2 separate regions of the Homo sapiens genome follow, and region 1 is linked to region 2. The links come from fine-mapping of genetic effects on gene expression. A gene starts in region 2. The other region holds a variant in brackets. All regions are shown on one strand. Distances are between the middles of the regions.

Region 1 (5,387 bases), 28 kb before region 2:
TTGAACTCTTAAACACTCTCACACTGCCATAAATCACTTCTTGTGTTCCAAAATTTTCATCTTGTCAGCCTCAGAAAAACAAAACAAAATAATAAAAAAAAACCTGTAAACTCTTAGGGGCTCACTGCAGGATTGTCTAAGCATTACTAATGAAAAATTTAACACAATTTGTAAAGTTTAAAAATGAATAAAAATACTTAATGAATACACTGATACTTTAAAACACCTCTCTTTTTATAATGGGAGTCAAGTGTAAGACATTTTGTCAAATTTCAATATTCTTTACCAAAAGTATTCAGAATCATAAGGATGTTTTCTGGCTCCCAGGGAATTTCTTAGCTTTTAAGAAAACAAAATAAGGAAAGGGGATATAATTTTTAGAAAATGCATTCCTAATAAGTATAGACTATGCCTTGAGAATGTCAAAATGTGGGTGTTCTACATTGACATATATAGACAAATTATATAGCCTAAATGTCAAACTACAAATAGTAGCTTGAAAAATAAGCATCATACATGTATCACACTATAGGTCCTTGCTTTGTTAATTAGGTCCTGTCTTTTGTACTATTCGAGCTTCAGATTCCTACATCCAATTGCCTATTTAGCTTATTCATCTGGATGCCTAATATATCAAACTTAACAGATCAAAAAAATTAATTTTAATTCCTCGAATCTCAGTTTTCTTCATCTCAGCAAATAGTTCATAATTTGCCTACATGTTTGAACCAAAAACCTGGGACTTATCCTTGATTCTACCCATTCCTTCACTTCCTATCCTTGATCTAACAAGTCTTGTTAGCTTTCCTTCAAGATAGATCCCAAAGTGGTCTAATTTTTTCCAGTTTTTCCTTCATCTTTTTTCAACTACTCTGATGGGAATAAAATCCAAGTTTCTCCTCCAAGATTACAAAGATTCAAGCCCTACAAGATCTAGTCAATGGATGGCCCAGCATACCCTCCTTCTCTTCAAACATTCAGGTGGTGTTTTCTGTGGGGCTCTTCCTTTTGAGTTTCTTCTGTCATGACGGCAACCTCCCAGCTTTTCTGTGCCTGGATCCCACTTGTCATATCAGGTCCTCGGCTCATAGATTACTATTTCTGTGAAGCCATCCCTGACCACCAAATCTAATTAGCAATGTCCTACTCCCACAGTCCATCATTCTCCATCACCGCACCCTGTTTTGTTTCTTCATAACCTTTGTCATTGTCTGTAATTACTTTTCATCTGTGTTTGCTGGGTTTATTTTCTCTCCCCCTCATCAAAGAGAGTATAAATTCTAAGAGAGAAGCAGTCTGATTTGTCCTGTGTGTCCTGTATATCTAATCCTACAATATTACTTGAATGAATGAATGAATGAGGAAATGAATATGTTACATATATGGTCTATCCCTAGATATATCCCTAGATATGGCTAACTGTTGACTGTGTTAGGTGGAATTGCTTATATAAGACAAACTCTGCAGCAAGACTCCCCTAGAGGATCACTGATGTCTAGAGTTCCAACATATTCCTCACCAATCAATATTAAAGACAACATTAGTATTAAGAAAATATAGAACTAGACCCAATCAGATTGTATGATGGTGCTTTAGTGACATAGAAAACTTGGAAGATTAAAAGTGAGGGAGAGCTGCTTTCCTAGTCTCAGGGGAAGAGAAGAACAACTTCATCTCACCATGACTAACAGGAGTCAGTCTCTTTTTCTGAAAACAATGCTGCTGCCAGCAGTTTTAAAGAAGTACATCTAACGTTTATGCCAAAAGAACTTTTGTAACTGGAGTTTTGAAAAAGAGAAGCAGTGGGGAATAGGGTGCATGTTTGAGAGATGGGAAAGGATAAATGCTTCTGGCCATAGAAAGCCAACCCTAGGGAGTCTTTGTGCAACTACACATAAACATTCAACTCACATTCTGACTTCTGCCTGCAGGTAAATTTCCTTTGGAATATGCTACTTACCCTGAGATTGTCAACAAATCTGAATCTATTTTAAAACCACATGGTTTTGCTTTCTTTTAAATAACTGTCTGTGGGGCTTCAAACCATGGCTTATGAGACATTCAATTTTAATTCTTTGAAGGTAAGGACCTGGACCATGTCACGTGTTCATTCTCTGGCTCTACCTGAATCCACTGATGTACTGGCTGGGCAGCAGAAACTGCCCCTTCATTTCAAGGGAATGTCATTGAAAGGAATATTGGACAGCAAAAATGTAAGATCTCCTTGAAGGGAAAAGATGTCATAACAGAATGACTTTCTCCTTTTCCTAATTTGTAATGCCAAGAACAGCTTGTACTCATTTTGTGTGAGTTCAACAAAGGGTATTAGGTAGTACAATGCTTCTCTGCTTAAAAAAAAATTATTAAGTTTCCCTTTGGGTAAAGCTGTATTTATTTCCTTCTTTCCTCCTCAGTTTGCATTCAGGTAAGCATTTGCAGATTATTTGATAAACATCATTTTTTCTTTGAAGAGATTTAGTTAAAAATTAAAATTAAAAATTAAATTAATTTTTTTTTTGAGACAGAGTCTTGCTCTGTCACCCAGGCTGGAGTGCAGTGGCACAATCTCGGCTCACACAACCTCCACCTCACGGGGTTAAGCAATTCTCCTGCCTCAGCCTCCCGAGTAGCTGGGATTACAGGTGCTCGCCACCACGCCCGGCTAATTTTTGTATTTTTAGTACAGATCGTTTCCCCATGTTGTATTTTTGTATTTTACAAAAACATAATTTTGTATTTTTAGTAGAGATGGTTTCCCCATATTGATCAGGCTGACCTCAAACTCCTGACCTCAAGTGATCTGCCCACCTTGGCCTCC[CA/A]AAGTGCTGGGATTACAGGCGTGAACCACCATGCCCACCCCTAAAAATTAAATTAATTAAAAAGCAATCAGGCATTCTGTTTTCAATTCTCAGTTCTCTCAAATTCTCCGAAGCTATAATATTTCCTCCAAATCAGTGCAATACAGATTCAGAGAGTTAAAAAGAATATTTCATTTCTTTAAAAAATTTAAAGAAAAACACTGAGAAAAGATTTGTAATCAATATGAAAAACTATTAATACCTTTATTATATGAAGTGGGAGTTCAACTGGATAAGGTAAAACATTATGTACCAGACAAATAAATGAGTACAAGACACAAAAGAGACATTTTTAAAGGGAAATACAGCTGGAAAACTGTCCCACCTTGCCAGTAATCTTAACAGAGCACATTAATATATGTTTGTTTCTAGTCTATAAAATTATAAACAAAAGTAAATAATCGAATTTACTTTTTCTAATTAAAAACCACTGAGGCATCCTTTGTTCAAACAAAGCATTATTGAGGAGCTCAGGAAATTGGGTTTAATTCATGATATTTGAAAGGGTGGGCCTTGGAAATTGGCCTGCTTTTACTCTTACTCACCATGTTTCAAGGACTTTTGAGGGAGCTTAAAAGAGCTTCTAATTTTCCAAGAAGCACAACTGGAAAACCACTATTTTTAATAACACCCAGTACTGACAGACACTGTGCAACAGGCATACTCCTACAATGTGCATGAGCTTCTAAATCACTTCAACCATGTTGAACAGCAATTTAGAAATATTTTCTATAAATCGCAAAAGTATCCACATACTTTGGCTATTTACATTCACTTCTGAAAACCTACATTAGCTCAATTGCATGAAGATACTAAATGCAGCATTAAGTTGGTAAATTTTAGAAATAAGTAAATTCATGTATTCAACCATTCAATAAATATTTACTGAGCAATGACATTACACAAACTGATGTCACTATTAAAGGATGAGAGGAAACAGGAATGGTGGAGCACATGGTTTAGAAAGCAGATGAGCTTCACTAGGTAGCACCTACTGTGTTCTGTACTAAAGTCATGAAATCTCAACTGAAGGTGACCTTAATCTTACTGGAGGGCATTAATTCCCTAAATTAACCTAGTCCAGATATCACATTACCAAAAAGTACAATGAAAACTAGAAGATAAAATATGTGAGGTTGTGGCATTCTAAGTGTATTATTGGGGTTCTTTAGATTAAGACTACCTCCCTTACCTGAGGCAAGGTCTCCTTGAAGAGAAAAATATTTAAAAAATGTAAAACATTTATCTGGAACTCTTTGTCTTGGCTATGAATCTGTGGAATCTATAGTTATTTGAAGCACTCCAGGCAAAAAATGAGTAAGGATGGCTTCTGCCACAGGGAGGTGGGTCAGAAGCTCGACTGGAGGTTTCTCCTTGGTGAACTCCAAGCTCAAAATGAAAAAGTCTTATTTAAATGCCTCCAGCCTAGTGTCAGCTGTGCTCTGGGTAATTAATTGAAAAATTACATGGCCAGATTTTAGCCAAAGAGAAGAGAAGATATCCCAGCACACCATTCATGCCTTAAGCAGATGTGATGATGGCAGAGGTGATAAGTGAGAGATCCTCTAGTCAAGGAAAGGTGGGTCTCAAAGGCCAAGGTTCTGTTGCCCCACCCCACGTAGGGCAATATCCTACTCTATTGAGAGATCCTCTAGTCAAGGAAAGGTGGGTCTCAAAGGCCAAGGTTCTGTTGCCCCACCCCACGTAGGGCAATATCCTACTCTATTGTCATTCTTGAAGGGGCTGATGTGGATCTGATGTTTAAAATAATCAGATAATAAAAGATAAATAATTTATAATAATAAAATAATATAAAGAATTAAATAAATTTGATTAAAGAAAGTAACTTCTTTATAGTCTCAAGAATGTTTAGAAAATCATAAAGTTAAAGAAGAAGCATTTGGAGAGATAAACGAAAGCAGGAAAAAGAAAATAACTTCTGAGGGCAAAAAAACAAATGAACCAATAAAGATAAACTTCAGGCTATTGCAACTGTCTCTGCTTATCTGTTTTTCAGATGGTGGCAGTTGATCAAACGAATGTGGAAATGACTTCTTCAGTTAAGGAGACAAGTGCAAATCAAAGCAATGTGGGTTTTTTTTTTTAATTTAAAGTAAAACAAAAAGATATCCTAATATAATCACTTATTCAAAAGAAAAAATAGAAAATAAATTATAATCAGTGTCAGTGGTCAGTAGTTATTTTTTTAAAGAACAGCATTTTAAAAGATTATTTTAACCTTAGAATAATTGCTTTCTGTAAACATAGCATGAATCTAATTTCATAATCTGATGCGTGTTATGTTTATAGAAATTTTAATTTTAGTCTAAACACAGTCTTTGGGTCAGTCCTATCCTGCTACAGTACAAAGCACATTAGTACATTCTTGGATAGCTCTCTGTTTATTTTCTTTCACTTGTCTTATTTTATCTTGGGGTATTGCACGCATCTTTGTAAGTCAGCTAAATTATGTTCTGAAAGAAGGTGAGAGACAGGACTAGCTGGATTTCCTAGGCCGACTAAGAATTC
Region 2 (5,387 bases):
TTTGACCCAGCCATCCCATTACCGGGTATATACCCAAAGGATTCTAAATCATGCCTCTATAAAGACACACACACATGTATGTTTATTGCGGCACTTTTCTCAATAGCAAAGACTTGGAGCCAACCCAAATGTCCATCAATGATAGACTTGATTAAGAAAATGAGGCACATATGCACCATGGAATACCATGCAGCCATAAAAAAGGATGAGTTCATGTCCTTTGTAGGGACATGGATGAAGCTGGAAACCATCATTCTGAGCAAACTATCACAAGGACAGAAAACCAAACACCACATGTTCTCACTCATAGGTGGGAACTGAAAAATGAGAATACTTGGACACAGGGTGGGGAACATCACACACCAGGGCCTGTCGTGGGGTGGGGGGAGTGGGGAGGGATAGCATTAGGAGGAATACCTAATGTAAATGATGAGTTAATGGGTGCAGCACACTAACATGGCACATGTATACATACATAACAAACCTGCACTTTGTGCACATGTACTCTAGAACTTAAAGTATAATAATAAAAAATAATAATAAATAAGAAAAAGTATACATTTGCCACTTTATCAGACCACAAGTTGAACTGAAAAGAACTAGGAACAGTGATAGCCTTGAAGGGCTAGCCCATTTTCCATATACTGCCTAACTCACTTTGGTTTGATATACAAATATTATATCATAAAGGTTATTTGAAAAGTTCTATACCTTAGAGATCACCAGGGTATAAATATATTTTTCCATATTGTTCTGTGAGTTTAAAAACTTTATACAAGGTATTGGTATGTATCTATTAATCTAAAATACTTAAATATTTTCATTATGGTCCTTGCAATGGATCTTCCTCTTTCCGCACCTTCCTTCCCCATTGAAGAAGACTCTGCATAAACCATTTAGATTACACCAAATAAGTATCATTTTTCATATTTCACTTCTATTTCATTAAGCAACCCATCTTCCTAGCTTCTTTACTAATTAGCCACTAAACCCCAGGCTTTTCTTTACAGTTCAGTGAAAATACGTGTAGCCTAAGATGTCCTAACTCCAAGGCAGGGGGAGGAGGAAGGGTAGAACTTAGTCAAAAAAAGAAAAGGATGCATGGAAGGATAAGAAGAAGAAACAGAAAGGCTCCTAGAGTCTGCCAAGAGCCCACGTTCTGGCTCACAGGTGGGAGCGCAACCTTGCTAGGCAAGTCCTAGCTTGCAGACAGTATAAAATAAGAGCAGACATGAAGAAAGGAATTCAGGTACCTTCCTTTAAACATATCTCTTCTGCAAATGTAGTCATCCCTGATAAAGTACAATTAGAGGTAGGTAGACGTGTCACAATGAAGTCAGATAACTTTCCTATTCACCATTTTGTCAGAGCTGATAAAATTTAGAAGTGACCAAGTTCTCTGTGTGTTCTTGCACTCACTGAAGGAACCAATAGCAGTAAAACTGTCCCTGTCTCAAAATGGTAGGAAGCAGAGATTTCATAAAAGTTTTCTGAAACTACGTGCCTGAAGGGAGGAGACAGTTGTTAAACCAGCATAGAATCATAAAACTATTTTGTACTCTTAACATGCACACTTCACTCACCCAAAATATTAGTTACGAATTATCCTAAAGAAAAAAAAAAGGGTATGAAAGCAGGTGGGCTGCCATTCTGTATAGGCAGACCACACCCCATACTCTACCTGCGCCCACCACTAGGGCTCTGGGCCCACAGGCGCGGATGCAATTCAGGAGGGAGTTGGAGCGAATGTTGGTGTTGAGAAAGGCCACCACGCAGCCCAGCTTGGCGAGGCCGAACCACACGTGAACGAAGTCCGGCTCATTGCTCATCAGCAGAGCCACCGTGTCCCCCTTTTTCAGAGAGGAATGGTTCAGGAAGACATGGGCCACTCTGCTGCTCCTTTTGTCTACATCCTGATAGGTGTAGATGTCTCCCTCATAGATGATGAAAGGTTTCCGAGGTTGTCTTTTGGCATGACTCAAGAATTTATCCAGCACAGTCACCAGCTCCCCTCTCTTTTCATACTTCTTCAGCCGAATTATAATGAGCACCACCTTCAACACGAACCAGAAGTCATCCCAAAAGTAAGGGAACAGGAGTTTCTGCAAGAAGTGCAGGACGACCATTCCAGCCCCTAGAACTGTTAGCCATGACAGAAGCATGGGGGCAACTGGGCCAGAAGACAGCTCTGATCTCAGCCCCCACCAGCGTCCTTCTCTTCCAGGCACAGCTCTCCACGGAGACCGCAGATCCTCACTACTCAGGGCTTACACCTGAAGTTCTTGTCAGCTTTTCCGGGGCGAAGCGGGATGGGGAGGAATCCTGAGAAACAGAATCGTAGGTTTGCACCGAAAAGGTCGCCCCAAGTGGTGCTGAAGATTAAGCTTGGGTCACTGGGCGGCTGGAAAGCAGGGAGCCTCCGACTCCTGCGAGAAACCAACACAGCCACCCTCAGGGGTCTTGGAATCTACAACCCCAGCGCTGCGCCCTCGCCTCCCAACCGCGACAGCGGCCCGTGCCCTGCGAGTTCCCCAGGACTTTCCAGACCTCTTCTCTGTGAGGGCTGAGTCAGTCCTCCCTGCTTCTGCGACCCTAAACAAACCTCACCACCCTCAGAAGAAGGTCCAGGGACAGAAGCTTTTCTCCTCTCAGGTAGTCTTTCCCGCGAGCTTGAGTTGGAGGCTGAATTCGAGCCGGGAAAAGCTGGGATGATGATGACTGAGAAGCGCAGCGATTTACAGTCTCTACGCACCAGAAACCGCGCAGGGGCTCAGCACCACGTCTCGGTCCGTGGCCTCAGGGCCAGCGGGTTCCAGGGTTCCTGAGCGCCGCCCCCGTCCTGCCCCGCCCAGCCCCGCCCAGTCCCTCTGACGCAACGGGTCCCGGAGAACTGCTCCTTGGTGACCCACGCGCCCGCTGGAAAGGGGTGCCCCTACCCCAGCCGCAGCTCGCACTCCGAGTGTCGTTAGGCTAGCCTAGTGTATTCTCCTCCGAAACATGGTGGGAGTGTTGCCTGCCCACCTTCGGCCTCCAGGCTCAGGGCTAACCACATCCCCTGGCGTGCCGCAGCCGGAACAGCCTGGGCCCCGCCGCCAGCTCCTCCCTGGGCGCGCGTCCGGCCACCTAGAGAAGTGTGGCGCGCCGACCTGCTCACACCCCAGGGAGGAGGCCCCGCGACTGGCGTCTCCGGCGGGGAAGAATGTGACAGTCCCGTGGGGGGAAACCCAGGGATCTGGAAGGCTTGGGGTCACAGGAGAACCAGAGTTGCTGGGATTGGGCGGCGCGGGGGCCCTGGCGAGGCTGATAAGGTATAACAGTGTCGCACAAAGGTCATCCATTGAACCAATTAATAACTAGAAAATGGAAAGAAAAGAACAAACATCAAAAAAACTGCAGGGAGAGAGAGGCAGGGAGGGAGGAAGAGAGGGCAGGAATATTTATGAACTGGACAGATCCAATAATATTTTGTAAGAAAGAAAGGAATATTTGGACACCACAAAATTGTACTGTTCTTTACAAAAAGTATTTTTGAAAACATGTTGATAGGTTGGTTTTTACATTTATATTAGAACTCTATCGTTAGAGAGCTAAGACAGTGCGTTTTACAAAATTTGGCAACAATATTGATTGATTTGAGAGCTTCAGTCGATATTCGTATTTAAAAATAAAAACAAAGTTTATAATGCTATTTGCAGTCCTTAAAAGTAACAAGATCCCCCCTCCCTGAGACAGATCATTTAAAGAATTATGTCTTCAAACTAAGGATTCTAAAGGGAGTGGGGAGGTGGAGTGGAGAAGTAACAAGTTAGTGGAATGGTTAATAAAATTTTATACGAAGATGAAATTTTACTAAAGATCAAAAAACTAAAGAACATTTCATTACACTTTTTTTTTTTAGCAGACACCATCATCCCAGCTGTCTGCTTTTAAGTGAGTATAAATGGTTAATTGCTTGTGTTAAAATAGTTAAGGAAGGCCTCACCTTGTTAGGTGTTTCTCCCTTCTGCCTCATGTTCTGCAGATGGATTCTGGCTAACCTCAGATTCTGTAATAAAAGAAAAACTGATAATTCCAAAGACGAGCTCCAGTTTATTAATCTGAAAATGATTACTTTGAAGTCACAGTGAAGAGCTCTTAAAGCCAAAGGAACATAGGCTCTTAAAGCCCTTTTCTGTAAATGACAAAAAAATGCTTTCTAAATTTACTCAGAAGCTTTGATCTTTTCGATTCAGAAATATCTTTTTAATTAAGAAAATAGTATCAAGTAGTTTATAACTTAAAACATTAGTTTACAACTTGAAAAGCATCTTTGACATTCTATTGTTTTCTCTTCTAGCTTTAGTCTAATTAAGTCACCTCCAAATAACAACATTTAACGAACACAAAAGAATATGGAGCAGTTGGTCTCAGACTTTTGTAGTTTTAATGAGTAAAATCTGTCCTTCTCCAGTGGAAAAAATAATACAGAAAGATAGGCGTGGCATTTCTTTTATTTTGCTGCACTTATTTTTCTTATCATGGACATTCTAATACCATCCTAAGGCATGGAACTAAATTTTTAGCAACTACAGATACAATGAATCTAGAATATATTCAGCACCATAAATGTGAGCTTGTTTGACTTATTAGGAAGAACTACAAGTAAGCATATGTTGGGCCAGACTTTGTACTAACCCAAACCAATTTTATGCCTGAAATCTCACCATGGAAGACATAATCAATGAAAAATCTTGGGACAGTTAACAGTATTGTGTATATTCCTATATTAGCCCATGTACCTGTTTCTATTTTGTCCAGAAATTTTGCATTCACTTTCAAATGCTACCAAAGGCAGCTAAGTAAAATAGATACAATTTTTAGCTACAATAGTTTAAGAATTTTGAAATGGGAGAAATATAGCAAGAGTTAGTTGCAAGTGAGTAAATCTATCATTTAACTAAAATAAAGAGAAATAAACACATAGAAATAGTCTAGACATTCCTGCTAACATTACTTTTGACTAGGAATAGTGTAATATTTCTCTGCTTCTCCTTTAAAAAACATAAAGACTGTTTGTTTTTCTTTAATGTTATTTGAAAATAAAAATATTGTGACTAAATGAAAATCAATGCCCCAAAAAAGTTTATTTTTAATCTACATGTGGTCTCTTCAACCTCTTCTTCATTTCTGATTTGACTTTCCTCTTTAACCCACTACCAACCACCTTTGCACCCTCAGTTCTATAGAGGATGAATTGTTTAGTGAGTAGATCAAAGTAAGACTGAACAAATAGCAATATATGACAGACATGGAGCCTACAGGATTTTGCCACTGTAACCTAAGAATTCTGACTCTTTGCTGTCAAATCACTTGTCTTCATAAGTCTTCTGATGGAATTCTATAGCAGT

Direction of the effects. Positions count from the first base shown, and alleles are read on the strand shown. Sizes are in standard deviations (SD) of each study's normalised expression.
For the expression in subcutaneous fat of the gene that starts at base 2,812 in region 2, allele CA in region 1 goes with a higher level than allele A (small effect, 0.38 SD a copy in GTEx).

The links. PIP is the estimated chance that this variant, and not a neighbour inherited with it, causes the effect.
Region 1: its variant is the best candidate, but not a certain one, in a credible set for the expression of SLC27A6 in subcutaneous fat (GTEx, PIP 0.66).

What each region holds. Positions count from the first base shown.
Region 1 is chr5:128,991,298-128,996,684 of GRCh38, reverse strand. The region is part of intron 4 of SLC27A6 (solute carrier family 27 member 6); the gene reads right to left. Among named protein-coding and RNA genes, the nearest start is that of SLC27A6, 29 kb to the right of the region's middle. The variant CA/A (reference allele first, on the strand shown) is at 2,819.
Region 2 is chr5:128,962,913-128,968,299 of GRCh38, reverse strand. SLC27A6 (solute carrier family 27 member 6) reads right to left here and starts at 2,812. Exons shown (of 10, transcript NM_001017372.3): 1 at 1,682-2,812. The coding sequence starts at 2,162.